Linked DNA regions of Homo sapiens. The protein of the gene in region 3 purifies or fractionates together with the protein of the main gene of each other region. This does not show direct contact. Each region holds a gene or a part of one and is shown on either strand. Other genes may lie near its edges. The genes, in order: HDAC6, CD44, SQSTM1 and RIGI.

Region 1 (7,024 bases), on a different chromosome or scaffold from region 3:
CCCTTGGCAGATTAAAAAAATAATTATTGTTAATTTTCAGGTATTGATACTAAGGTAATGCTTTTCTAAAAAAGTGTACTTATGTTTTAGAGATGCATTCTGAAATATTTACAGGAGAAATTATATGGTATCTGGGATTAGCTTTGAAGGAAAACAGGAAGAGGGCAGTGGGTACAGGTATAGATGAAATGAGATCGGCCAATGAGTTGATAAATGTTGAAGCATTAAATTCCAGAAGCCAGAAATGAACAAAATAAAGAACGTCGGAGGAAAACATTAATAAAGATAAAACCAGAAAAATTAATGAAGTATTAAAAACCCACCATAATAAAACAGTAGAGATGACCAACAAAGCCCAAAGCTACACTGGAAAAGATAAGTACAACAGATACACTTTGGAAAGGCTGAGGGAAAAAAGAGATGTTACCCCAAAGAAGAGGCCTCCTTTGTTCTGACATCTGGCAGGATCCCATCTAATGCCCGGGTCCTTGCCCACACTCGCTAAAGTTGCAACCTGTCAGTGGACATTCCCTGTCCCCATTCTGGGGAAATGCCTTTCAGGAAAACAGACCTACAAACACTGCAGCAGAGTAGTCCTCTGACAGCCCCCTACAATGGGCCTTCATTCTTGGGTATAAATAGCCAAATAAGGATTGCTAGACATTTGAGGAAAACCATCAGCATAAAAGAGAAGGACCAAGAAAAAAATAATTCAACCAGCCTCAGAATAAAGAGACATAACTCAGACAACAGAAGAAACTTAAGGCACTTCCTTTTTTGAGACAGGGTCTCCCTCTATCGCCCAGGCTGGAGTGCAGTGGCATGATCTTGTCTCACTGCAACCTCCGCCTCCTGGGTTCAAGCGATTCTCCTGCCTCAGCCTCCTGAGTAGCTGGGATTACAGGTGCGCACCATCACGTCTGGGTAATTTTTGTATTTTTAGTAGAGATGGGGTTTCACCATGTTGGCCAGACTGGTCTCGAACTCCTGGCCTCAAGTGATCCACTCACCTCGGCCTCCCAAAGTGCTGGGATTACAGGCATGAGCCACCGCACCCAGCCGGCACTTCTAATCCATACTCTATAAAAACAAGATCAGGTATGAGAGGACATAGAAACAGAGAGGAAGAAAGAGCTTTTGGAGTTTAACAGGATATCTAAATACATAATTCAACAGAAGGGCTTGAAGATAAAGTTGACAAAATCTCCCAGGTCACAGCAAAAGAAAAAAGAGACAGAAAACATAAGATAAAAAATAAGAAGCCTGGGCAACATGGTGAGACCCCATCTCTACAAAAGATTAAAAAATTAGCTGGGTATGCTGGTGTGCACCTGTGGTCCCAGCTACTCAGGAGGCTGAGGCATGAGGATTGCTTGAGCCCGGGAGGTCGAGGCTGCAGTGAGTCGTATTTGTGCCACTGTACTCCAGTCTGGGCAACAGAGCAAGACCTTGTCTCAAAAAAAATAAATAAATAAATAAATAAATAAATAATAAAAAAGAGAGAGACATAGAGGATCAACCCAGGAAGTCTAACATCTGACTAACAGAAGTCCTAGAAAGAGAACAGAGAAAACAAAGAAGAAATTATCAAAGATCTAATAGAAAATAATTTCCAAGAGTTTAAGAAAAGCATGAATCTTCAGATGTAAAATGTCTACCTACTATTAAACAGAGTGAAAAGGCCAGGGTAAAAGTTTAGAACATCAAGGCTAGGTACAGTGGCTCATGCCTGTAATCTCAGTGCTTTGAGAGGCTGCAGTGGGAGGACACTTGAGGTCAGGAGTTCGAGACCAGTCTGGGCAATATAGTGAGACCCTGTCTCTACAAATAATTTAAAAAATTAGCTGGGTGTGGTGGCACATGCCTGCAGTCCTAGCTACTTGGGAGGCTGAGGCAGGAGGATTGCTTGAGCCCAGGAGTTTGAGGTTACAGTGGGCTATGATCATGCTACTATACTCCAGCCTGGGTGACAGAGTGATACCCTGTCTAATAATTTAAAAAAAAAAAAAAAAGAACACCAAGATAACCTTGCAGAGAGGAAAGTAGATTACTTGGAAAGGAATGAAAAGCAGACACCTGTCAGGAACACTGAATGCTGCAAAATAATAAAGCAATGTCTAGAGAACAACCAACCTAAATTGGATTCTTCAGATCTTGGATAAGTGGATTCTCTGTAGTCAGCTAGGAAGAAGGCTAGATAAAACTACTACAGGTTGAGCATCCCTAATCTAGAAATCTGAAATCTGAAATGCTGTAAAATCCTAAACTTTTTTTTTTTTTTTAGATGGGGTCTCAGTCTATCACCCAGGCTGGAGTGCAGTGGTGCGATCTCAGCTCACTGCAACCTCTGCCTCCTGGGTTCAAGTGATTCTCCTGCCTCAGCCTCCTGAGTAGCTGGAAATACAGGTGTGTGCCACCACGCCTGGCTAATTTTTCTGTATTTTTGTAGAGACGGGGTTTCACCATGTTGGCCAAGCTGATCTTGAACTCCTGACCTCAGGTGATCCGCCTCGGCCTCCCAAAGTACTGGGATTACAGGAGTGAGCTACTTCACCCGGCCCTAAAATCCTAAACTTTTTGAAGGCCAACATGATGCTCAAAGGAAATGCTCATTGGGGTATTTCGGATTTTGGGTTTTCAGATTAAGGATGCTCAACCACTAAGTATAATATAAATATTTCAAAATCTGAAAAAATCTGAAATGTGAAATACTTCTGGTTCCAAGCACTTCATATAAGGGATACTCGACATGTACTTAGTAATGTCTCCTACTGACAAGGACTTGCTCAATCACTTTCTGCAGGAAGGGTAAGCTGGTCCCCTCCTGGAGGGAAGTCTGGCAGTGTATACCAGACTTTAAAGTATGCTGACTCTCTGGCCCAAGCAACCCACTGTTAGAAATTCATCCTACAGATAGACTCAGAGAAGTGCAGAATTACATATTTACTAGACTATTCACAGTAGAAGTGCCTGTAATAGCAAAAACTGGCAGGCATCTTAAAAGTCCTGGGGTTAAATAACCAGAGGTACAGTCATAAAATTGAATACTACAAAGAACGAGATACTTTAAGAGGTACTAACATGGAGAAATGTCCCAGATATGCTGTTAAATGAATAAAGCAAGTTGTCGAAGAACATGTGGAGAATTATTCCATTAGGCAGTGTGTTATTAATAATTATAACAATAATAATAAAAATTCAGACATCTATAGAGAAAATCTGTAAGGATATAACCTAAACTGTCAACACTTATTTTTGAGGTAATGGAAATTAGAGGAGACTCACTGCTTCAGACACTTCTGTATTATTTAATTTCTTTAAACAAATAGTTTGTTATTTATTTATTTATATTTGTTTTTTACTATCTACTGAAAGGATAAACAAACACTTTGAAGCATTATCCTAATCAGAAAAAATAAAGCAGTAATTTGAGGTTCACTCTAACCCAACGGTTAATCAGTGAATAAGATCTTCAAATATTTGTGGGTCAAATCCCGTCTCTCCCAGTTCTTCTCTGTGTGACCTCTTAACGTATAAGCCTCAGTCCCCCTATCTGTAAAATAGGGAACCCAACAGTCCCTGCCTCAGAGTGAAATTAGGAGAGATGGCAGACACACAAAAGTAGCACAGATCCTGATCCCAGGATAGGCCCCATGAATGTGAATGCCTTTTCCTCCTTCTGGACCCCTTCTGGCTGGGCCTGTAAGGGTGGGAGGTGGCTGGGAGTCTAGCACCTAGGTGGGAGTCGGGGTATACCTGGGGTCCTGGTCGAAGGTGAACTGTGTTCCTTGACCGTGGTGCACATCCCAATCTACGATAAGGACCCTAGGAGCAGCAGAGAGAGGGGACTCTGTGCAAGGAGATCAAGGTGAATCTGGGGGAAGAGCCCAGACCAGGACACCCCACCCCATGCCACCCCCATCACATCTGCCCTCTGTTGCTGACCTCCGGATGCGGTGTTTCTGTTGAGCATAGCGGGCTGCCACAGCCACGTGGTTGAACATGCAATAGCCATCCATAAGACTGTGCTGGGCGTGATGTCCAGGAGGCCTGGGCAAGACAAGGAAATAACAGCTTGGAGTATGTGAGGGGTCCTCCTCTGCAGAGACAGACTGTCCCCTGCTCTCTAATCCTGGACCACCAATTCCTTTAATGCTGATGCCTAAAAATCTGCCGGGAACTGAGTAATGGAGGCCCTCAAACTCTCACCCCCTGCCAATCTACCCCTCTGTCTCCAAAGGAGATTTGAAAATGTTCACTAAAATGATAAAGGCCGGGTGCGGTGGCTCAGGCCTGTAATCCCAGCACTTTGGGAGGCCGAGGTGGGTGGACCACGAGGTCAAGAGATCAAGACCATCCTGGCCAACACGGTGAAACCCCGTCTCTACTAAAAATACAAAAAATTAGCTGGGTGTGGTGGCGGGCGACTGTAGTCCCAGCTACTTGGGAGGCTGAGGCAGGAGAATCACTTGAACCTGGGAGGCAGAGGTTGCAGTGAGCCAAGATTGCATCACTGCACTCCAGCCTGGTGACAGAGCGAGACTCCGTCTCAAAATAAATAAATAAATAAAAATAAAAATAAAATGATCAACGCATTCATTCTCATACCCAGTCATTCTGCTGCAGGAACTTAGCCCACAACCTGTGTTTTAAAAAGGGTGAAGTAACATTTTTATTTTATGTTAGTGTAAAATAAAATTTTATTTTTATAAAGGTACTAGCATATTTGCTGTAGCATTTTTTTAAAACAGCAAATGACTGGGGAGAACCAAAATGCCCATTAGTCGGGGACTGATTAACATAGAGTGCATTTACACAATGGTGTTCTACCGGGCTCCAAGATACATACTGTTAGAGAAAGGTTTCCAAGATGTGTAAGTGAAAAGATGGTACGAAGGGAGTATGTCATGTTACTACCATTTGTGGTTAAAAACAGGGGAGGGAGGAGAAAGCTTTTGCATTTCATCAGTTCTGGGATGCCAATGATGATAAGATGTACCATGATTTTACATGCCAAAAACGAAGCAGAAAATACTGCCAATGGAATTCTGAGATGTCACTGTTTGTAAGATGCATCTGGATTTCAAGATGTTACAAATATGAAAAAATGTACACCTTAGAATCAATGAAATATGGTATTTATTTCTTGAATAAGACTTTGTGGGAGGACACATGAGTCAGTGGTTCCAATGACTACCTCCCATGAGAGGAGGCAGGTGTCTGGGTGACAAGGATGGGAGACAGATTTTTAATTATATTCTCTTTTTTACCTTTGGATTCTTGAATCACATGAATATATTACCCATATCAATACATTTTACACTTGAAGGAAGGACTTTAAAACAATGTAAAAAGTCAAATGCTGTAGAGTCCTACCTAATGATGGCCATGCCATTCCGGATCTCAGCCCCCAGGACCGCATCCACCAGCCTGAGGACAGAGCCTGAGGCCAGGCAGGCACAGGAGTATGAGTTCTGGAGAGACAGTGGGGAGCCAGAAAGGGAGTAAGGGAGAGAACAGCCCTATCCACTCAGCTGCTTCCCCCAGGGTGGGGTGGGCATAGGGATGGGGACCCCAAGATTGCCACCATTCCCTGCCCGCAGAGTTCTCATCCATACCGGATGCAGATAAACTGAGTCGTAGGTGTCTGCTAGGACACGGAGTTCTCCCTCATTCATGTACTGGGTTGTTTCCATCAGATCAATATATTCTAGGCTAGACACAGATGGGAGATGAGATTCAGGGCCCTGTCTCTTCCCCAACTGAGCTGTCCATACACCAACCCCCTGGTCAAATTAGGGCTTGGCTCCCCCAACTGTCAACCTGAAGGAATAGCCAGGATATAAGACACATTCTGTTTCTTCCCTAGCCCGCCTCAGTTCAGGTAATGTTCTCTGCTCCCCTGCAGTAGCCACACCAAATCCTACTTTCAGGCCTTTGGCCACACTGGTTCAGCTGTCTGTTCTTCCCTTCCCTCAGTCACCCTCTTCATCTGACTCACTCTTTTTCTCCTCTTAAAGTTCAGCTCAGATACCTGCTCTGGAAGCTAGCTTTCCTCAAGCCACATAGCACTAGGCCTCTAAATCTGGAAGCCCCTGGGGGAACCCCGATCACTCTGTCCACACATCCACCATCTATTCACACAATCAGATCATGATAACAGTAATAGCTCATCATGGGCTGATTATATATCAGGCCCTGTTCTAAGCACCTGACACACATCAAACTCTCCTGAGGAACTTATGTTTACTGGTCCCCTTGTTACAGGCGATGACACAGATTCAGAAAGGCTCAGCGACTTGCCCAAGGCTGGCTGCAGAGACCATGACATTGCTTCCCAAAGCGTTTAGCTTGCCCTGGTTTGTCCAGGGCAGGCTCCTCCCCATCCCTACAAGGCTCCCAAGCCTTCACCTGTGAACCAACATCAGCTCTTCCTTTTCAGCAAACCGGGCCTGGGGAGAGATGAGGAATAAAGTGGGGTAAAGGGTTAAGGCATGGGCTGCACCCAGGTCAGGTCAGCTCCCTGCCCTTCACCCAGAGTGTTGGCTTGGGGGCCTTACCTGAAAGGACACGCAGCGATCTAGGAGGCCCTCCTGGATCAGTTGCTCCTTGATGGCATGGAGCCGCTCAGGGCCTTCCGGGAAGCTGGGGAGATGGAGTCACAGTCACAGATGCATGAGGACACTGGGGAGCTCCACATCTGTTCTCTCCACATCTCCCCATCCACCCTTCCACAGCTGCTTACCCCAAAACTGTGGTGTCAGTCCTGCCTCCCATCAGCTCTGGTGTGTGACCCTCTCCTCACCACTGCCACTGCTATTACCATACCCTCCCGCCTGGGCTGTGGCGGCATCTCCTCGGCCTCCCTGCTTCGACCCTCGCCACCTCAACGGTCCTTTCTGTGCATAGCAGCTAGACACTGGTTAAAACCCTAATCAGTTCATGTCCCTTCGAGGCTCCCATCCCATTCTGAGTAAAAGCCAAAGTATTACCCATGCCCAGAAGGCCCTAAACAATCTGTCCT
Region 2 (7,024 bases), on a different chromosome or scaffold from region 3:
CTCACAATTCAAGAATAGAGAAGATACCTTTTTTATACTCAAAAACAAATTACTGAACAGGCATGGCCAAAAGGCCAAATGACATCAGACAGGTGTCACTTTTCACATAATGTCTGGCTCTATTTCTTCAAACACTGGAGTTCTGACAAAATGCTTTCTCACAGCCAGACTTTGCAGAATCATATTGTAAAGTCTGGACCCACATTATAGAGTAGATTCCTTTATACAACAGACAGCGATATTTTATCAGGGCCTCTGCTACAATCTCACTAGATGATGCCCAAAACTCGATGTGAAAGAGACATGTTCAAGGGCATTTTCTCTGTGTTTCCTGTTCTTATTCATAACTGGCTTGTATCCATTCCTGTTCAGGTGACTTGTTATGAGCCTTTAAGGTTTGGCTCTGTGTGAACTGCAGCATAATTTATTAAGTAACCTAACATCTCGTGACAATTCCTCCAGTGTCCTTTTGTTCAATGTCCTCAATGTCTACCGTTTAACCCAAAAGGAAGTTTCCATCCAAATTTACTTGTTAAACCATCCATTACCAGCTGTCCCTGTTGTCGAATGGGAGTCTTCTTTGGGTGTTTGGCGATATCCCTCATGCCATCTGTTGCCAAACCACTGTTCCTTCTGGGTAGCTGTTTCTTCCGTTGTACTACTAGGAGTTGCCTGGACTGTGAGAAGAATATCAGTTGGGAGACATAATTGTCTATTTTCCTCACCAATAGCTGTCAACATATCTTTCTACTTTAAGGGCAGATACACATGGGGAGGGAAGGTAGAAAAGAAAGGCACCAAGGAAACAGGCCACTGATATTCTAAAAGGGATATGAGAAATCAAATGATCCAAATGTTTAATTTTTCAGCTAGGAAAATTGTGGTCCAAAGAAGTTTTGATTTGTTCAAAATCATAGGACTAAGCAGACCATAGCTGATGAATTCTCATAGTTCTATGAGTTATTATTATTTTTATTTTACTGTAGTGAATGGCTTCACATACCCTGTCTGAGAAAACCATTCAAAGAATAACCTCTTTGCTCCAGTCATTTTGACGAAAGGAAAACACTGTATAACAGCTAATAACAAGATCAGCACATTAGGAGACCTTCTCAAATGGTGGTCATGTAACCCATAATCGCACACACTGGAAATGCACCAGCAGTGGATTTGCCCAGCAGGAAAGATGGTGGGATGGCTTGGATGCTATTCCACTAACACAGTATTTGGTGATGTCCACATGGCACCTAAAATTGCTAAAATCACTTTTTAACAAAATTAATTCAGTTGACGAAAACTATCCAAGCCAGTTTGAGGCATTATATAAATAATAGTGTGTGACAGGCTTAAAATTTCAACCATCATTTTAAAAAGGACAAAATCAAGAGAATATAATTCCATCAAGGTGTCTTCAGGAAAAGTCAGAAAGACACCAACATTTTTGTCTATAGCAGCTTGTAGCAATTTCTTTTTTTTTTTTAGTTTATCAAGAAAATGAGAGTCTATAAACTTGCCAAGCCAGAGTACTTTTTTGCAACTTGTAAAAATGGTTGTATTTCCTTATCTTAGAAAATGATATGTGTGATTTGGTGACAGTAATGACATTTAAAAAATATAACTGTCCTCATTTTACCCTTCCATCGGCCAAGCCATTATTGGGTTAACTGGTTATCCAGGAGGAGGGGGAAAAAAGCCAAAATCTTAAGTTTTACAAAACTCCCACTGACTAAATCACTAATTCCCAATAAATAATGAAGTTACAAAAACCACTGAATGTAATTACAAAAAAGGGAAAACTGACCCAAACATAGACTGCTATGTTACTCAAAGTTTAAATAAAAGAAATAAGGAAGTGTATGTGTGTGACTGTATAGAACACTATGCTCCTTCTATCACTAATTTTATAAACATAATGATTTTTTTAAGTACCCATAACTCTTAATTGTTTTCAGCCTAAATAGGAATGGGTTAGCAAAACATATGATTTCTATTGTAAAAGATGAAGGTTGACTTTCTTCTAGAAGTTGTGATGTTAATTTGATAAAGCCCAGAGGTCACCAATCAGATCCCTTTGAGTTTCGCAAATATTCATAAGATAATTGTTACAGTTGTTGCTGTCTTCTCTTTGTCAAGTTACATTCTGTCTGAATTTTCACCAACCCTCTAGTCCTAATGCCCCGCAAGCACCACCTTTTGACAATAGGCTCATTATTTCCAAGTCTCTAAAGTAGCTTTCTGGTCTTTAAGTACAAACTGTCTAAAATAATTTCTAAGGTATACTGTTAGGGCTCTAAGGGAGTGGAACAAAATCCTATTCCAAAGAGATTTATGCTTCCTCTGTATTTCCTTTTCTTATCAGACTTCTTTGTTAACTTAACCCCTAAGCCGTATGTATACAACACACCTACTGGGGTTTGTAATGGGATGTAAGATCTGCTGGATATATTCAGTACAATGTCTAACCTCTATCCTAACTGATACCTGAAACTTTTCTTTTGTTATCTGAAGGCACCCCTCAAGCCATAGATTCCCAAAGCCCTTTGGTTTTTAAGTGGCTTTTAAGTGGCTCACATTTCCCCATTAGGTGTATCTAGGGCTGTGAGAATGACAGTTGGGTCATCATTTTAAAAATGCTAAAAAGCTGTTTTCCAAAATAAATACTTTTATTCCAAATAAGATAGACATATCTCAGCGGGATAGATAAAAGAAGAAAAGCACATACTTCTTATGTTTGGGGAGTGAGGGGGCCCCCTATTCTCACAGTCCACTGCCGCAACTTGAGATTGTTTTGGAAAACCTGAGTTTTCATAATAGTAGAAATAACAGTAAGAGCATCAAAGCCTTCCCCAAGTTACCATGGGCTTAAAAACAGAAAAAGAAGCAGTGGTAGAATTCAAATGAAGACCATAAGAGCTACCAACTTTGCTCTAAAGAGTACAAGGGATGTCTTTCTATAGAACAGTCAGGGACAGAATGCAAAAAAGACACTGTATTCATCAAAGATCTTCATAGAAAATAAGGATTCCAAAGATCAATTCACTTGACAAACTTTCTTTCCAGATTCCACTACTAAGCACCAAAAGAACACACTCTTTGCCACACATTTCAATGAACACACACAAGTTACCCAAATGGAACCTCTAGGAACCTTTAACACAAAAATTGTATCTAGATCTACTTCTTAAAACATTTTGGCCTTTGGGCAACCTGATGAGTTATCATTTTCCTTCCAATTTTTAAAATTTGTGTGCGGGTTTAGCAGCTTTTCAGGCTCTAAGAATAAAAGAAATTACCGAGTGGAAATAGAAGATGCGGCCAATTTCTAAACAAAATCTTCCCTATTGCTGGAATGTCTTTACTAATTCATCTAACCCAGAACTGCCGACCGCCATCTTGCTTACTTGTGCTTGTAGAATGTGGGGTCTCTTCTTCCTCATGATGCTCATGGTGAATGAGGGGAGGGTGTGCTTCTGGGTTCCAGTTTCCTTCATAAGCAGTGGTGCCATTTCTGTCTACATCTGCTGTGATGATGGTTAAATACACTGTGACTTGTTATCAACCAATCTTTAATGATTCTATTCTTCCATTAAAGTGCATGCTATTTAACAATTCTATGCCAAAGTGTTACCTCTGAGCATCCACTCTCAAAAATTTTGAGTGACTTTACCTAATTGGTCTCAAGAGAAAATCAATGGGCTTGGAATTTCTTCATGTTCCCTTATTATTCCACTATGATCAGTTTGTCAAAGGCAGAACCACAAACCATTCAAACATATTCATTTTTATCATGAAGCAACATAAAAAATCCTGTGCCCACATGGTATAATTGATAAATGACTCCTAAATGGAATTAAGTATCCTCATAAAAGTCCACTAAGAATTTCTTGATCAGATATTAACTAAATTTCCCACTGTGCCTCGATGATTGACCTTTGCAGCATCATGGGCTTTGAGGGGAAAAAAATCTTTCATTAAATATGCAGAACCCATTACCAGTCATCCTTGTGGTTGTCTGAAGTAGCACTTCCGGATTTGAATGGCTTGGGTTCCACTGGGTCCAGTCCTGGTTCTGTTTTGTGTGGTCAAAAGCCCGTGGTGTGGTTGAAACTGTGATAACGATGATTGAAGCAATTAGAAAAATGTTATTTCTTGAGCCTTCGCCACTTGTCCCGCACATAGTCTTGCTTCTGTAGGCTATGCAATGAATCATCTATACCAGGTTGTATAGATGGCTGCATGGAAATGGAGGGAAAGCGGAGGGTGACTTCAGCTTAATTCAGCCATATTGGTAAGCATCTCAGTGTCCTTTGCATTCTGTCATAGAATACCTTGGGGTTCAGAACATGAGATCTTCCAGATAAAACAGTCAAAGAAGCTGCAGCAGTAGGAAGGACAGCTTTGAAAACACCAGCCCTCCACCGAGGATAACCAAAGGCGCCATTTTGCCCATCCATGCAGTCTGTAGTATCCCTCTGCACTTGAAAGCCCAGGGACTTAGTCACTGTGTGCTGTTTGTAGATCCTCCGGGTGAAGAGGCAGATAACTGAAAGTTATACCATGATAATCACTTTATGTTGTTAGTAATTTCAGTGGGGAAAGGAATGCCTGAGCAGCTAGAGCTTTCCTATAGATGATTCTGAAAAAGAATACCTAGAATAGCCATATGTTTTAGCGATACATTTCTGAATATTTATCAAACACTATGGTATTCTCATCAAATACAAAATATGTCATGAGCAAGCCATTCATAGCCAGTGAAAGAAAATAAGACACCACAGGTAACCAGCCACCATCATAGCAGCACACTGGAAAGAAAGAGGCGTACATCCACCAGCACCCTGATATTGTCACCCAATCTGTTAGGGCTGGAATAAGAGATGCACCTAACAGAAGGATCATGACAAAATCTGAGTCAACATGTTTTGTGAAAGGTTATTTGCAAATCCATCCTAATTGTTTCAAACTTTATTTTGATACCCAAATAACGCAAAACTGTTTTCAGAACTATAATACTGTCAGCTCTATTTTACAAGTTATGAAAAATCAAGTTTAGAATCATTAACCACATTCTCAATAGGCCTGAAAAAGTGCTTATTATCAAGCAGTTATCACACCCCTCCAGAAGAAAGAGGGCATCATGTTGAATTATGTCCATAGGTGCTAAGCAGAAAAGAAAAAAAAAGAAAAGCAGAAATTGGAAAAATATGCCATAGAGATTTAAAAAATTAAAAAAAAAAAAAAAAAAAAAAAAAAACAACACCATGGGAAATTTTTCCCTGAAGCCTGACCATACAATTCATTTACAGGTAGATCTGTTTGGGTTACCACCCAAGGGAATTTAATTTCTTCAGTATCAAGACCACGTATTTACTGATGGGCCCATCTGCAAAGCTGGGCCACATGCTGAACACAGGAGACAGTATAATGTAAAACTCCAGTGTTTTTGATTATTTGGTTTTTGTTCTGAAGTTACCAAAAGGAATTTTCTTATTCCATAGATTAAGCTCTGGAGGGGTGTCGGGTCTAAAAAAAAAATCACTTAAAAGTTTAGATAGAAAATTCTAGTTCCTTTTGAGTATTTGTCATATCAATGTTATATACTCAGATGCCTTCAAGGCCTAAGCTATTTTTTTTTCTGGACCCTTTCTTCTCTGTCCATTTGAGGATGAAATTCTCAGATTTTAATGGAATGGATAGAACTTCAGTGAATTGGGAGAGCTCACACAGCACCCCAAAAGCCTTTTTTCTAAGGAAAAGCAGAACTGTGATGGAGTCAGGTTCAGGATTCTCAGCTCTGTTCAGCAAAATCTTAAGTCATTACAGGTATGTGTGGAAAACTCAGTAATCTGGCAGAATATTAGACCAACCTTTGCATGTTTTTAACTTTTTAAGGATATCTTTAAAGCTCAATTTCCATCTCTTTGTTCTCAAAAAGTTTTATAATTGTCAAAAATTTGGATACTATTATGTACCAATAGTGGTTTCATTATTTGCTTTTAATAAGTGGCAATGTCTTGCTAAAGCTAACCTGACATTTGCCCTTCCCTTCAAGGTCTTTCTGCTATATTGGTGTCCAGCTCATTTGTTAAAACTCTGGATTTGTTCCTTTGACCTCAGCTGGGCTTTGATTAACTAAGATAATTCTTGAGTTCTAGCTCCCATCATTTAAGCCTTTAGGGCCTTCAATTTAGGAACTTCCACAACTTTTTTTTTTTTTTTTTGAGATGGAGTCTGGCTCTGTCACCCAGGTTAGAGTGCTGGAGTGCAGTGGCGCGATCTCCTCCTGGGTTCACACCATTCTCCTGCCTCAGCCTCCCGAATAGCTAGGACTACAGGCACCCGCCACTACGCCTGGTTAATTTTTTGTATTTTTTAGTAGAGATGGGGTTTCACTGTGTTAGCCAGGATGGTCTCGATCTCCTGACCTCGTCATCTGCCCGCCTCGGCCTCCCAGGGTGCTGGGATTACAGGTGTGAGCCACCACGCCTGGCCTACAACTTTTAATTAATACCCTCCTCATCACATTCTTCAAGTCTATTGCTCCAACAGACCATGAGCTTCTGAAAAGCAAAGGCTCTGGCTCTTTTCATCTTCGTGTTTCCAGCACCTAGCACAGTAAGTACACAATGTACATTTTTTGTACTGTTTTAATGTCATTCTCTGATAAAGCCTGATCATTCAAAGACAATCTGTAGCAGTAGATCCCATAGATAAATAAAACAGGAAGAACATGAGACAAGAGAAATTTTGTGAGATATTTTCCCCACTTCTCAAAACATTCTATTTCTTCTTCCATAATCTCATCAAGATATAACTAAGGTATGATCATAGGTTCACCCATTTTTCACATTAACTACTTCTCAAGAGAGATACAATTTGGTATCACTCAGATTAATCAATAAGCCTTGCATAAATGGCTGTACTGTAATTGATTATTCTTACTGGTGCTGGAGATAAAATCTTCATCATCATCAATGCCTGATCCAGAAAAACTGAGGTGTCTGTCTCTTTCATCTTCATTTTC
Region 3 (7,187 bases):
GGGCGCCTCCTGAGCACACGGTGGGCGGTGGTCCCGCCGGCACTCTTTTTTCTCTACAGGAAGGGTAAAGAGAGCCGCTAGGGTGGGACCCCCTAAAGTCCTCCCCCTCTGTCGTCACTGTGGGGCTGTCACTGCCAGCAAGGCCCCCGGCCCTGCTCTCCAGCATGGAATCCACACAAAATTCAGCCACTTAGGTGAGGGCAGCAGAGCCACCAAGAACCTGCTAGGAGGTTCCCAGTCCCTGTGTCTGTTTGGCCCAGGCAGCAGAGCAGCAGCAAGGAGCCCTGTCTGCACAGCTTTGGCCTTGCCCTTCACCCAAGCGCCACGGCACCAGACCCCATCCCTAACCCAAGCACCACGGCACCAGACCCCATCCCTAGAGTGAACATGGACTCCTCTTTCTCAGGTCAGGCACAGCACTTAAAATGTCTTTTTTTTTTTTTTTTTTTTTTTTTTTTTTTTTTTGTCGCCTAGGCTGGAGTACAGTCATGTGATTTCGGCTCATGGCAACCTCCGCTCTCCAGGTTTAAGTGATTCTCGTCTCAGCCTCCTGAGTAGCTGGGACTAGAAGCATGTACCACCACACCCGGCTAATTTTTGTATTTTTAGTAGCGACAAGGTTTCACCATGTTGGCCAGGCTGTTCTTAAACTCCTGACCTCAGGTGACCTGCCCGCCTCGGCCTCCCAAAGTGCTGGAATTACAGGCGTGAGCCACACCTGGCCTATGTCTCTGTCTTAAACAGCCCTCAAATTGCTGACCCCTTCATTGGTGGAACATCGAGCCCTGTTTTTTACTCAGCAGGGAACTGAGTACAAGCTGAGCTGGCTTCAGGCAGCCCCCAGAGCAGCCCCTTACCTTTAATGTAGATTCGGAAGATGTCATCCTTCACGTAGGACATGGCCATTGTCAATTCCTCGTCACTGGAAAAGGCAACCAAGTCCCCGTCCTCATCTAGATTGTTTAAAAGACAGCACGTGAGCACCCAGGGGTTCTCAGCTGGACATAAGCTGCTGGAATGGGCTGAGGCAAGTATGAAAGGGACACTCACAGGGCTATAAACAAACACACCTACTTGAGCCACAGAGGGCAGGAGTGAGAGGCAAGACTACCCCCTTGCTCTGGCACCTCCTGGAAGGTGAGTGCTCCGACCTGGGCCCTGGACCACAGCCACATGCAGGGGGCGGAGGGCCTGTGCACAGGGGCAGCAGCTTTGGCTGCTGCACTTATTTAGCCTTGGGCCAGCTGCCTTTTCAGAAACGTGCCACCTCATTCCCCATCCGACCAGGCCCATGTCCGTCTTCAACTGTGGGAGATCCCTGCCTGTGACCTGCTCCTGAGGGGCCCAGCCCCACAAAGGCCTTAGACTTCTAGTGGCTTGGGAGTAAAGGAGAAGACAAGGGCATCTGCCTGCTTCCTTCCCTAACAAAGCTGAAAGACACGTATTTGTATGTAGTCTCCATTTGTGACAGATACATATGAGCTGAAATGGCTTTAAAGCACAGCTGTGCAGACCAAACCACGCCATCCACCGAGGGCACAGGTGAGGCACCCAAAGATGCAAACAACCCAAATGTCTGTCAACTAATGAACAGGTAAACAAAACATGGCCTGTCCACACAACAGAATATTATTCCTCCAAAAAAAACTAGTTCTGATATGTGCCACAACACTGAACACATTACACTAAGTGAAAGAAACCACTTGCAAGACTACATTGTCTGATTCTATTTACATGAAATGTCCAGGATTGCAAGATGAATAGATACAGAAAGGAGGTTGCTGGGGGCATGTGGATAAGAGGGTGATAAAAGGTATGTATGGCGTTTATAAGGTGATGAAAAGCTCTCACACTGAATATGGTCCACAAACCTATGAAAATAGTGAAAACCACTGACTTGTACACTAAATGGGTGAACCCTTATTTCAGTTACAGCTCAATAACATCACAATTTTTTTTTTTTTAAGAATAGGAGAGGGCCTGGTATGCTGGCAGCGCTCCAGAGGGAGGTCCTAGCACTGCACCCTCCCAGGGGCCGGCCTTGGCCACCTCCCGCCCTCCTGGCCACAACCACCTCCCTAACCCCACCCCCAGCAGCCACTGGTCACACCAGCGCAGCAGGAAACAGGGCTTCTGTGCCAACACCAACACTTCTGAAGAACGTTCTCGTCCACTTGCCAATGGGAAAACATCTGTACTCGACCTGGCTCGGAGCGTTCCGCCGGCGATCCGTGCCCTTCTCCCAGGCGCTGTCGCGGCGCTCGCGAGTCCCCCGCACCCCCGCGCTTGTTTACCCGCGTCACTCCCTCCCCTCGCCGGCGCTCGCCCGGCTCCTCCAGGGCATTATCTGAACCCACCACCTGGCGCAGCAAGGTGTCAGTGTAACCCGAGTGCCCGCCTGACCACCCAGTGCCCGCGGAGAGCCAGAGCGTTCGCCCCGGCGCGTCCTTGCCAAAATCCCCAACAGCGCGGGGGGTGGAGCGGGGCGTCTGACGCCCCCAGGCTCGAGCCCCCGGCCGGCAGGGCTCCACCGCCCCAGGGGGCCGACGCTGAGCAGCGGGTCCCGGCCTTGGTCACCACTCCAGTCACCAGGCCGGCTCCCATGGCCGAACTGGGGACCCATGCAGGCCACCGCCATCCAGGGAGCAGCCAGCGCAGACCCCCTCACGGCCCGCCAGGCGTCGCCGAGAAGGGAGGGGGCAGCCACCCCGCGGCAGGAGGCCGTGTCCGGCCTGCGTCACCGCCCCCGCCGCTCCCCGGCCCGCTCACCGCGGTAGTGCGCCTGGAAGCCGCCAGGCCGCAGCGCGGGGAACAGGGCGGCCACCCGGCTCAGCAGCCGCTCGCAGGGTCCCGGACCCGCCGCAGCCTCGGCTTCCGCCTCAGGCTCGGGGCTGCAGCAGAAGCTGAAGCGGCGAATCTCGCGCGCCGCGTCCTCCTTGCCCAGAAGGTAGGCCTTCACGGTGAGCGACGCCATAGCGAGCGGCGAGCTGGCGGAAAACGGGCCGTCCCGGTCGCAGCCGCCGCGCGGCTTTTGTAGCGAACGCGGAGGCCCCGCCCCGCCTCGAGAGGGGCGGAGTCTCTCGCGCCCTCCCCGCCCCCGCCACCGTCGTCGCGGCGCGAGAGCCGCCCTGCAGAGGCCCCTTCACTACTCTCCCCTTCCCCGCTACCCCTCGCTCCAGGTCTCCCGGCCCCCTCATTGCTGACCCCTCTCTTCATTGCCCCGGTGCACCAAGGACCCCAGGAAACCGGCCCTGGCACTCATACAGGCCTGGGCTCCAGCCTCTGCACCTGGGATCAGGGTACTGGCGGGGGTCCAGCCCCTCGCCCCTCCCAGGCTTGGGCCTGGCCATGACTCAGCAATATCCTCAGTTGGGGGTACCCAGTGCAGGGAGAGGGGGACACAGCCCCCATATCAGGAGGCTGCTAGGTCGCCCAGTGGGCACTGCTGGCCAGAACAAGCTGGCTCTCAGGTTGCTGTTCCGACCCTGCCATGGTCAGCCTGCCGCGGTGGCAGCCCTCTTACAGCGCATGGCATCCTCGGTGATGGGCAGCGCATAGCATACTCGGTGACGGACCCCGACTCTGGCCTGAGCACCAGAGAAGTTCCCAGTTTAGTAGGAGTGGAGTTGAGAGGTGCTGGAGGACCAGCTAAGGTCTCCTGAGTGTCAGTGGTCGCCAAGTGTTCACTGTGGTCCAAGTGACTCCTTATGGGCTCCTCAATTCAGCAGGTAATGCCCATGGCCCTGTGGGGGCTCAGGCCCGTTGGCCTTGTGGGCAGCCAAGGGGGTCAGCCAACAGCCTCCTCAGCTAGGAAGGAAGAAACACTGCTTTATGCCACCAGAGTAACCTGTCCGCCAGAACTGGGGCAAGGAGAGGGGCAGGACGAGTGGTCACCCTCTGGAGCCTCCCAGGCAAGGTCCTGTGAGTAGGAGGTCAGAACCTGCTGGGTCCAACTCATGCCATTTCAGCCCAGGGCTTGCAGGAGCTGGAGAAACCTCCCAGGGGAGGAAACCCAGAGGGAGGCAAGAGTGGCTGGATGGGGCCAGTCAGGTGCGAAGGTGATGTGTGGGTGTGCGCACAGCAGGGGCTGGTCCACAGGTGTGAATGATCCTTCCCGGAGGGCTCCGAAGTGGGCAAGGCTTCCACCCTGCCCAGAGCAGCCCTGTGGAGAGGGTTCAGGCCTCTCCCTGCATCCGGCGGTGGAGAGTGGAAAATGCCCCAGGGCCTGCTGGAGCCACTGCCTTGCAGACAGGGGCAGGGGACACAGAGGGGCGTGCTGGCAGAGGCTGTGGCCTACAGACAGGTGCTGGCCAAGCGTGACTCAGCAGCCCAGGCGCCTGAGAGCCACGTGGCCCCCGCCGAGGGCCGGCTTTCCTGCCCCAGCCCCCGGCTATGGCCCGGTCTGAGCAGGGTGAGGGACACAAGGAAGGCCTGTGGCTCTGGGAACATAGCTTTGAGGAAGCGCTCAAGGCGCCCCACTCACCCCCAAGAAGGAGCTCCTTTGCTTTCTCGCCATTTGGCCCGTTTGGGATCGCGGGAAGTTTCCGCGGGGGCTAGGGGCATGTGAAGAGACTGGGGGGGGGGCGGGGAGGGGAGAAGGAAGCACAGAAGAGGGAGTCTTTGGGAAGCTGGGGTGGACACCCGGCTCTGGCCCTTCCCCGCACGCCTTGCGGCCCCAGCGGCCGCCCTGCCCCCACGCGAGGCCGAGGCCTCCCGGAGGTAAACAAGGCGCGGCGGGAACCCCCTGGCAGGGCCCTCTCCTCCCGCCGCGGAGGTCAGGTGGTCTGGCCGGCAGTGAGTCAGCGTCCCATGACCGCTGTCGTAATAGGGGGATCCCCGGCCCCTGCTGCCACCCATCTCAGTGACCTCTTACCTGGAGGCTGGGCTGGGGAGTGGCTCCGGGGTCACCGTGAGTCCCCTGAGCAGGAAGAGCGTGCAGCGGCTGGAGCCAGACAGACACTCTCCCCCTTCTCGCCTCTGACTCCTTCCCCTTTCCCGATGCAGTCCCACCCCGCAGGCTCCCCGCGTCCACTGGCCCCTTCCCACCCTCCAGGGCCCGGCGTGCATGCCCAGGGAAGGCTCGGCACCTGAGCCGCGAGACCCACTATGGACCAGCCTCTCATTTCCTCATCTTTCAAATGGGGCTGAAGTGGAAGGATTTGGGCTGCCCTCCCAGGCGATGCCCCGTGGGTGTGCGAGTTGTTTAGCTGCTTTTGGGGCTGTAAGCTGGGGGGTCAGGGCAGGACAGAGACTGCAGGGGGGCTGAGGTGGAAGAGTGGGGAGGGCAGGAGAGGCCTGAGCCAAGCGCCCAGTGGTCCCAGGAGACCAGCCGGGGCAGCCACAGGGGTGGTCTGGTTCTGTCTGTTGCTGCCCAGCATGTTGTAACCACCTCCTCAGTTCCCCCTTCCCCCCTCCCAAATAATCCTATGCCTTGGCAGTGGTGTTCCCAGGTTCGCTTCTTTTCTTTGGGGCGTGGAGTCAAGTGTCCGCGTGGGTGCTGGGGCAGCCAGAGACAAGGCCACTGAGGGATTCAGGCCGCACTGCTCTGGGCCATCTTTAGGGAGATTGACAATCACAGGGGACACAGGGGATGAGTTCCTCTACAGAGGTCCTGGTCTGTGCGGGGGCCTCCAGGCCTTCTGCGCTGCAGCCACTCCCTTCCACTCACATGGGAGGGCCACAGCCCTCCCTTGCCATCTTCCTAATCATGCCAGCTCATTCTACCTGGTGACTTTTCCCTGGCTCTCCCTCTGGTCCAAAACCCTTTCCACTCCTGCCCTACATGGCAACTTCCCACCCTAAATGTCTCCTCCTCAGCGGGGCCTTCCTTGACCACTCCCTAGGAAAAATCCCCAGGCACTGGACATCACTTTTTTTTTTTTTTTTTTTTTTTTTTTTGAGACAGTCTCTCTCTGTCACCCAGGCTGAAGTGCAGTGGCACGATCTCAGCTCACTGCAACCTCTGCCTCCCAGGTTCAAGCAATTCTCCTGCTCCTGCCTCAGCCTCCCAAGTAGCTGGGACTACAGGTGCCTGCCACCAAGCCTTGCTAATTTTTGTATTTTTAGTAGAGATGGGTTTCACTATGTTGGCCAGGATGGTCTTGAACTCCTGACTTCAGGTGATCCGCCCACCTCGGCCTCCCAAAGTGCTGGGACTGCAGGCGTGAGCCACCCGCCCGGCCAGGCATCACCCCCTTTTAGCCCTTTCAGACAAGCCCAAAGCCCAGGCAAGAGGCACGGGGGCCATGGGAGGGGCACGCCCACAAGGGGTTTGCAAAGATCTTTCTAAAAGAAAAGGAGTTCAAGTCATGGACAGACATGGTTAGAGAATTCAGTGATGCCAAGTTGTCAGGCCTGAGAGCCCCAGGGACCCTCTCCTACTGGAAGGCCAGAGCTGCAGAAAGAGGTCCCCTGGGCTGGGCGAATTTCTCCAAATAAATTCAAACATGGCCTGCCTCGGGACGGGGGCGAGACCCTGGGCCCTCAGGGGCACTGAGGGGTCGTCCATGCCGGGGGACATGGCCACTTGGGGGCGGCCCTCGTCAACCGCGGAGTGGGGAAAAGGGGGGAGGGATGGAGGACGAACGCCCGGCGGTGTCTAAAGGCACGACGCGGAGCAGGAACCACAGCCCTGGTCCCCAGAAAGCGCGCGCGGCCCGGGGCAGAACCTGCCGAAGTTCCAGCTCGGGGCGCAAGGGATGTGGGGGTCACTGGAAGACGGGGCGCGGGCCGCCCGTGGGGAGGAGACTGGACCCGAACCCGGCCCACCCCACCCGAGCGGCGACGCCAGCGCTGACCCCAGGCGTGTCCCGGCCCCCGGCGCGGCTCCGGCCCAACCGTGCACGCCCGCGGAAGGCCTCGCACCCGCGTCAGAAGTGGCCTGCCCGGGGCCACCGGCCCGCAAGTCCCCGGTGTTCTCGAGGTCCCTGCCCCGTCCCGCGCGGCTGTAGCCGGCGGGAGGGGCTGAGAGGCGGGTCGCGCTGGGACCTAAGGCGCCGCCCCCTCGCCAGCCTCTCCCTCCCTCCGTCACCGGGTGGCCGGAGACCCGGGGGCACTGCTGGGGTACCCCAAAGCATAGGGCCAGCCTGAGTGCGCAAGGTCCTGAAAAGACGGGGGGGCGGCGACAAGGAGTAGGGAGGGGGGCTGGAGGAAGACGGCAAAGTGACCCCGGAAGGGTCCAGGCGCCC
Region 4 (7,568 bases), on a different chromosome or scaffold from region 3:
TTGTTGTCTCAGTGATTGGCTTTATGTGCAGCCAGCAAAAGAACCTAGGCTGAATCCCTGGTGTTTCAGTAACAATTGCACCCACTCTCATTGTTTCAGCAAGGATCTCCACATTAATGTCTCCCCAACTGTGGACCCTTTTCCTGAACTCCACACCTGTGCAGCCAACAATCTGATGAACATCTCTTCATGGATGTATCCAAGGCATACAAACCCAGCATACCTAAATCCGAATTTTTCTCCTCCTCCTGCAAACCTGTCCCTCTTCCCACATTTCCTATCTCAGAAACTACCATTTATTCACCCAAGGACCAAAGCCAGAGACCTGGAAGTCATTTCCACCCTGTCCTCACCCTTACCTCCTCACCACAACTCCCCAAGAGACCTATTGATTATACTTTCCAAATGTGTCTTGAATCCATCCATTTCTCCCCATTCCTCCGGATTCCTATTTTCCTAACTGGTATCCTTGCTTCCAGTTTTTCCACTCTGCTGTCCTGGCATCATTGCATCTGCCATTCTCTCTCTCCCTGTCTTGTACCTATTCAAGCCATTCCTCAAACTGAAGTCAAAGTCGTTTTTCTACAATGCAAATTCTATTTTGGTCCCCTCTCCTTATCACATTTCAGTGGATAAAGTCCAAAACTGTTCATATCCCACTTCTGCTTGCCTGTCAAGTTTCATCTCTCTGAACTCCTGCCTCTCTCTCCACAATGCCACCATACTAATATTTTCTGGATACCTGGAACACTCTAGTTTCTCTTTCACCTTGGACCTTTGCACATAAGGAGCCCTCTAACTGCAATTTATTGTCTCCTTCCAGCTAATTTTTCCTCTTTCTTTAGACCTCAGTTCAAATGCCAAATATCTGGGAAGCTTTGGCTGTGCCCTTTGGACTCTAGTAGACATCCCAGCTTTTTTCCATCAAAGCACTGCTGCACTTTATTATTTACTATTTTGTTACCTGCATTCACATAGACACACTAATCACTATTAGGGCAGGGACAGTTTCTACTGTGCTCATCATTGCTTCCTCAACTTTCAATGACACTATTAGGTAATAGGTGCTGAGTAAATTACCTCCAATGCTAACATAATACTGACACGAGTTGCTTATTTTATTCCATCAAAGTGTATCAAATCAATATATGAGTGCATGAAAAAATGGAATTCACACCAGTTGTTAGTGTTTCTTCCAAGTACTTCTTCAGGTGCCAAGCTACACTGGTCACTAGAATGCCATTCCACAACCTTTCTTTTAGTTTTGTAGAGCAATTAGCATTCAAGTTAGTTGCCGGTCTTAACGCCATTTCCAAAAACTGCAATAACATCAGGAAAGACTGGCACTTGGAGACTTTTAGGATTCCCAGGCCCCCTCTCATCGACTTTTTTTTGTTTTTCGGTTTTTTTTTTTTTTTTTTTTTTTTTTTTGGAGACAAGAGTCTCACGATGTCACCCAGGCTGAGTGCAGTGGTGCGATCTCACCATAACCTCTGCCTCCCTGGTTCAAGCGATTTTCATTCCTCAGCCTCCTGAGTAGCTGGGACTACAGGAGTGCACCACTACGCCTGGCTAATTTTGTATTTTTCGGTAGAGACGGGGTTTCACCATATTGGCCAAGCTGGTCTCGAACTCCTGACCTTGTGATCCACCCGCCTAGGCCTCCCAAAGTGCTGGCTGCAGGGAGCCGAAGGCCCTTGGGATGTGACCAACTCAGCATTCCGCTGGAGGCTATATGATCAAACAGCAAACTGTTTATCATGAATGCAGCACCTGGGCAAACTCACACTGCCTTGCCACCAAATGGTTTGCTGAGCGCCTCACTCCCTGGCGCCAGGCTCCTTGAAATTATTTATTGAGAAATCTAGCACCTATTGTTCAAAGAATGCAGTCTTGCAAGCCTGCTGTGAATCAAGCAGCCAGCCAACAAGCACCTCCCCTTCTCGCTATCTCTTTTGCCTAATAAGAAGGGCTGTGTAAAGCTCAGGGCCCTTGTCCACTAGAGGCAAGGTGCCCCCTGACCCCTTCTTCCAGATATACTCTTTTGTCTCTTGTCTTTTATTCCCGCGTTCGCCCCTCTTTGTTCAGTCCCCTAGGTCCGTGCGGGTTACATAGTGGCACCCCGAACAGCAACAGCATCGGGTGCTCTACAGCTGGGATTACAGCGTGAGGGACCACGCCCGGCCTCATCGATATCTTTTAAGTACCACCTCCTTTCACCTCTTTCCCAGAAGCCTCTGCTCATCTCCAGCACAAAGTAATTCGATACAAATTTACAAAATGGTCATTACCCAGGATCACCTGTCTCCGAAGTTAGATGGAAACACCTGTATTAAAGCCTAAAGCTATTCGGTCTGGAAAAGTCCGGCTCCTCTCCAGCTTCCACTTCTTTAGGCGTGCAAATAAGATTCGGCAGAGTAAGCATCAACTTCCTTTAAGCTCAGACCGCACTTTGTGCTCAGTACTGTAATTATCTGCCCTTTGTGTCCCATCCCTTGGACTGTAATGTATACTAAGGAAGAGCCCTTATCTTATTTCTCAATCTCTGTCAGTACCCAGCCAAGCACACAGTAGACTTTAATATTAGTGAAAATAAATGAAACAAAATTTCTTCCCCAGCTTTGAACCTAAATAGATGAGCACCCTTAAGCAAGTCACTTCACCTCGCTGGAACTCAGTTTCCCCACCTAGGCCTCCGAGGGCTCCTCAAACTCTGGCAACCTCTAGCCTAAAATGCTGCGGAGATCTTACCACAAACCTGGGGAGTCTGGCAGGCTCTCTGCATTGATTAAAAGAAGGGAACGAAGCAAGAGAAAAACAAGTCCTCAATTGTTTTCCGCCGAGAAGGCGCCGCTGGAGACACTCACCCTCCCTAAACCAGGGGGCCATGTAGCTCAGGATGTAGGTAGGGTCCAGGGTCTTCCGGATATAATCCTGGAAGGCTTGCAGGCTGCGTCGCTGCTCGGTGGTCATGCCGGCCTCTGCTTGCAGCTAGCTACGTTCCCCGCAGGCTGTGCCTCACTAGCTTTAAAGCCGGGTAGGAGGAGGGCGTGGCGAGCGGGGAAAGCAGGGATTTTCCGAGGAAATGAGGCCGGACGCGAGGCGGAGCTGCATAGGAACTTTAATAACTAAAGGGAAAATCGAAAGTGCAACTAGCGGCGGGCGGGGTTCGCGGAGGCTGTTTTGCCTCGGGCTAGTTTCGTTTCCCTCCGCACCGAGGAAGCCCGGGAACGGAGAGGACCCCTAGGAATTGCTTTTATTTTTATGATCTTATATTTTGTTTTGCTTTTATAGCGCTAACGTTTAGACACAGTAAAATGCACACAATCTGAGTGTGCAATTCGATGAGTTTTGTAAAGTGTACACCTGTGTACCCAGTTCTCCCACGTCGGCTGGGTGCCAGGGTAAGTCTATGTTTAGCTTTATAGGAAACCGCCACCTGTTGTCCAAAATGACTGATTACATCCAGTTTACATTCCCACCCGCAGTAGGAGAGCTCCAGTAGATAGACACATTGGTCAGCCTTTCTTTTTTTTTTTTAATTTTAACTTCCATCTTGGTCGGTGTGAAATGGTATATTATTGTGGTTTTAATTTTAATTTCCCATATAATTAATGGTGGGCACATTTGCATGTGCTTACTGGGTCATTCATATATCTTTTGTGAAGCATCTGCTCCAATCTTTTGCCTGACTTTGGAGTTTTTTGGTTTATGGATTTACAGGAGTTATTTATTCAGGATACAAAATTGTTAAATATATGTATTCGAAATATCTTCTTCCAGTCTGTGGCTTACCATTTCATTTTCTTAAAGGTGTCTTTTGAGGAGCAGACACTTATATTGATGCAATTTTCAGGTTTTTCTTCTGTTTGTTGTTTTTTGTGTCCTCTTTAATAAATCTTTGCCTACCCCAAGGTCATGAAAATATTGTTTCCTTTTAGATTTATATTTTTAGCCTTTACTTCTGGGTCTATTACTATCTCAAAATAATTTTGTTGTGGCGTGAGATGGGGGGTCCAGGTTCACTTTTTCCATATTTCTAATTGTTTCAGCACCGTTTGTTGAAAACTTTTCCTTTTGGCATTGGATAGCCTTGGGACCTTTGTAAAAAAACCAAGTCCATTGAATGTATATGTGTCTATTTCTGACTCTTGTTATATTCTACTTCCTACTACTTTGACAATACCATTGTCTCTAGGTTACTTTAGATTTCAACTAAGTCTCAAAATCAAGTACTACTAAGTTCTCCAAATTTGTTTTTCACTGTGAAGATATTAGCTATTTGAGATTCTTTGCATTCCTTTTTTTTTTTTTTTTTTAATTTCTTTTTTGAGACAAGGTCTCACTCTGTCTCCCAGGCTGGAGTGCAGTGGTGCAAACAGGGGTCACTGCAACCTTGAATCCCTGTGCATTTCCATATGAAATAAGAATCAACTTGTCAATTACCCCTTCCTTCCCCCAAAAAAAGTTTATGGGGATTTTGATCAAGATTGCATTGAACCTACAGATAAACTTGGGGAGAAGTGACATCTTAACAATATTGAGTCTTCTAATCCATAAGCATGGTATGCCTTTTCATTTACTTAGGTCTATAATTTCTCTCAGCAGTATTTTAGTTTTGTTTCATTTTATTTTACAGACGGAGTCTCACTATGTTGCCCAAGCTGGAGTGCAGTGGCTATTCACAGGCACAATTATAGTGTGCTACAGCCTTGAACTCTTGGGCTCAAGGGATCCACCTGGACTCAAGCAATCCTCCTACCTCAGCCATCCAGAGTAGCTGGGACTACAGGCACGGGCCATCACACCTGGCTATTCTGAACTATTTTATGTTATTTGATGCTACTGTCAATGGAATTGTTTTTAAGATTTCATTTTCAAATTGTCTGTTGCTACGGTATAGAAATACAAATGATTGGCTGGGTGTGGTGGCTCACACCTGTAATCCCAGCACTTTGGGAGGCTGAGGTGGGTGGATCACCTGAGGTCAGGAGTTCGAGACCAGCCTGGCCAACATGGTGAAACCTCATCTCTACTAAAAATACAAAAAATAGCCGGGCGTGGTGGTGGGCGCCTGTAATCCCATCTACTCGGGAGGCTGAGGCAGGAGAATCGCTTGAACCCAGGAAGCGGAGGGTGTGGTGAGCCGAGATTGCACCACTGCACTCCAGCCTGGGCGACAGAGTGAGACTCCATCTCACACACACACACAAAAAAAGAAATACAAGTGATTTTTGTTTTTTGACCTTAAAACATGCAACATTGCTAACTTCACTTATTTGTTCTAGTAATTGTTCTGTAAATTCCTCTAAGTTTTCTAGATAAATAATGATGTCATTTGTGAATACATACTTTAACTTCTTCCTTTCCAATCTTTATGCCTTTTATTTCCTTTCATTATAGTTTTTCTTTTTGAGACAGGGTCTCACTTTTGTCAACCAGGCTGCTGCAGCCTCCACCTCCCAGGCTCAAGGATCCTTCCACTGCAGCCTCCTGAGTAGCTAGGACCACAGGTGCACACCACTACACCCAGCTAATTTTTGTATTTTTTTGTAGAGATGGGGTTTCGCCCTGATGCCCAGGCTGGTCTCAAACTCCTGAACTCAAGCGATCGCCCATCTCGGCCTCTCAAAGTGCTGGGATTACAGACATGAGCCACCATGCCCAGCCAGTTTTACTTCTTTCTTTCCGGTCTTCATGCTTTTTGCCTCCTTTCTTTATTATGGTACCTCCTAGAGCCTCCTATAGAAAATAGAATAAAAGTGGTGACAGTTGACACCATTACTTTATTGCTAATTTCAGTGGGGAAATCATCAATGTAATAATAATCACTTTAAATAATATGGTAGCTGTAAATTTTTCTTAGATACCTTTTATCAGATTGATGAAGTTCTCTTTTATTCCTAGTTTGCTGAGTTTTTATAATGCATGGGTGTTGAATTTTTCAAATGTTTTTTCCTGCATTTATTGAGGTGATCATATATTCTGTTAACATACCAAATTTCACTGATCAATTTTTGAACGTTCACCCAACCTACCATTCCTGGGATAAATCTCATTTGGTTTTAGATACAAAGGATGCTATATCATGACCAAATGAGTATTTTCATAAATACTTTTGTGTCTGTGTTCATGAGGAATATTAGTCAATAATTTTATTTTCTTGTAATGTGTTTATCAGGTTTTGATATCAGAGTTATGCTAGTCTCATAAAGCAAGAGTTTGTTTCAGATTGGTATCATTTTCCCCTTAAATGTTTAACAGAATTCACTAATAAAACCATTTGGGCTTGACATTTTCCTTGTTTGAAGATTCTTTATAATGAATTCAATTTCTCAATTAGATATAAAGCTATTCTGACTTTTAATCTTTAATCAGTTTTGATAAATTGTGCTTCTCAAGTGTTAAAATAATTGGTAGGCCATTAGACTGATGTAGCTGTAACACCCTCATGAGGAAAATGAAACTTAGTTTAGCCAATCACAGTTGGCTAACTGGGACATTGGTTATATTGTCATAAATTTCTCACTTGGATAGTCCAAATAAGGCAAACACTCAAACTTTAACCAATGAAACAATTTCTTTGCTCTGTGTCCCTTCAACCCCCTCTAACAGAGCCCCAGACCATTTCTGGTTTGTAGCTGCTTAATTTATGAATCACTGCTGGAACACCTTAATTTTTTTTTTTTTTTTTTTTTTTTTTTTTTTTTTTTTTGAGACAGAGTCTCACTCTGTAGCCCAAGCTGGAGTGCAGTGGCACAATCTTGGCTCACTGCAGCCTTCACCTCTAGGGCTCAAGAGATTCTCCTGCCTCGGCCCCCAAGTAGCTGGGACTAGAGGCATGTGCCATCACACCCAGTTAATTTTTTTGTATTTTTTTAGTAGAGACTGGGTTTCACCATGTTGCCTGGGTGGTCTCGAACTCCTGAGCTCAGGCAATCCACCCACCTTGGCCTCCCAAAGTGATGGGATTACAGGTGTGAGCCACCACGCCTGGCCAGCTTGAAATTTTAATGTGGAAAAGTTTATATTTTAACACAAGGAATTTGATCATTTCCTCTAAATTGTTAAATGTATTGGCATATGGTGTTCGTGATAGACCTTATTATCTTTTTTGCCTTTTTAAAAAATCAGTCTTGCCAGGGATTTACCAATTGCATCTTTTCAAAGAACAAACTTTTAATTCAATAATTTTATTTTTTTAAGAGACAGGGTTTTGCTGTGTCATCCAGTAAAATGGACTCCTTGGATATACGTTAATCAAATATAACTTTAACCTCTTTTAGCTATAACTCTTTGTATTCTTTTAGCTATAGGTCTCTCTCCATACACACATACACATATATATTTGTATACACTCTACATATTATTTTATACGTGTGTGTGTGTGTATTTAGTGGTTGCACTAAGGATTATAATATGTATCCTCAACTTAATCTATTTAGAACTAATATTGTACCACATTAGGTAAAATATAAGATCATCACAACCATGTAATTCCACCCCATCCTTTTTGCTATCATTGTCTGAAACTGTACTTCTATATGTTATAAAATACATACTACAAT

What was found.
Region 1: the proteins of SQSTM1 (region 3) and HDAC6 purify together in Homo sapiens (affinity purification with western blotting; 6 studies listed by BioGRID). This does not show direct contact.
Region 2: the proteins of SQSTM1 (region 3) and CD44 purify together in Homo sapiens (affinity purification with mass spectrometry; 4 studies listed by BioGRID and IntAct, with this or other methods). This does not show direct contact.
Region 4: the proteins of SQSTM1 (region 3) and RIGI purify together in Homo sapiens (affinity purification with western blotting; 5 studies listed by BioGRID). This does not show direct contact.

Annotation. Positions count from the first base shown.
Region 1 is NC_000023.11:48,805,059-48,812,082, reverse strand, and holds part of HDAC6 (protein deacetylase HDAC6), read right to left. Parts: intron 6,646-7,024; coding exon 6,561-6,645; intron 6,453-6,560; coding exon 6,412-6,452; coding exon of another isoform or gene 6,408-6,411; exon of another isoform or gene 5,716-6,407; coding exon 5,619-5,715; exon of another isoform or gene 5,475-5,618; coding exon 5,377-5,474; exon of another isoform or gene 5,123-5,376; intron 4,051-5,122; coding exon 3,946-4,050; intron 3,826-3,945; coding exon 3,757-3,825; intron 1-3,756.
Region 2 is NC_000011.10:35,198,165-35,205,188, reverse strand, and holds part of CD44 (CD44 antigen isoform 1 precursor), read right to left. Parts: coding exon 6,943-7,024; intron 4,544-6,942; coding exon of another isoform or gene 4,272-4,543; exon of another isoform or gene 4,108-4,271; coding exon 3,994-4,107; exon of another isoform or gene 3,522-3,993; coding exon of another isoform or gene 3,519-3,521; coding exon 3,402-3,518; exon of another isoform or gene 2,645-3,401; intron 678-2,644; coding exon 549-677; intron 1-548. UniProt on the Homo sapiens protein: Cell-surface receptor that plays a role in cell-cell interactions, cell adhesion and migration, helping them to sense and respond to changes in the tissue microenvironment.
Region 3 is NC_000005.10:179,816,724-179,823,910, reverse strand, and holds the start of SQSTM1 (sequestosome-1), read right to left. Parts: upstream 3,007-7,187; 5' UTR 2,975-3,006; coding exon 2,770-2,974; intron 954-2,769; coding exon 858-953; intron 54-857; coding exon 1-53. UniProt on the Homo sapiens protein: Molecular adapter required for selective macroautophagy (aggrephagy) by acting as a bridge between polyubiquitinated proteins and autophagosomes.
Region 4 is NC_000009.12:32,523,194-32,530,761, forward strand, and holds the start of RIGI (antiviral innate immune response receptor RIG-I), read right to left. Parts: upstream 3,004-7,568; 5' UTR 2,974-3,003; coding exon 2,868-2,973; intron 1-2,867.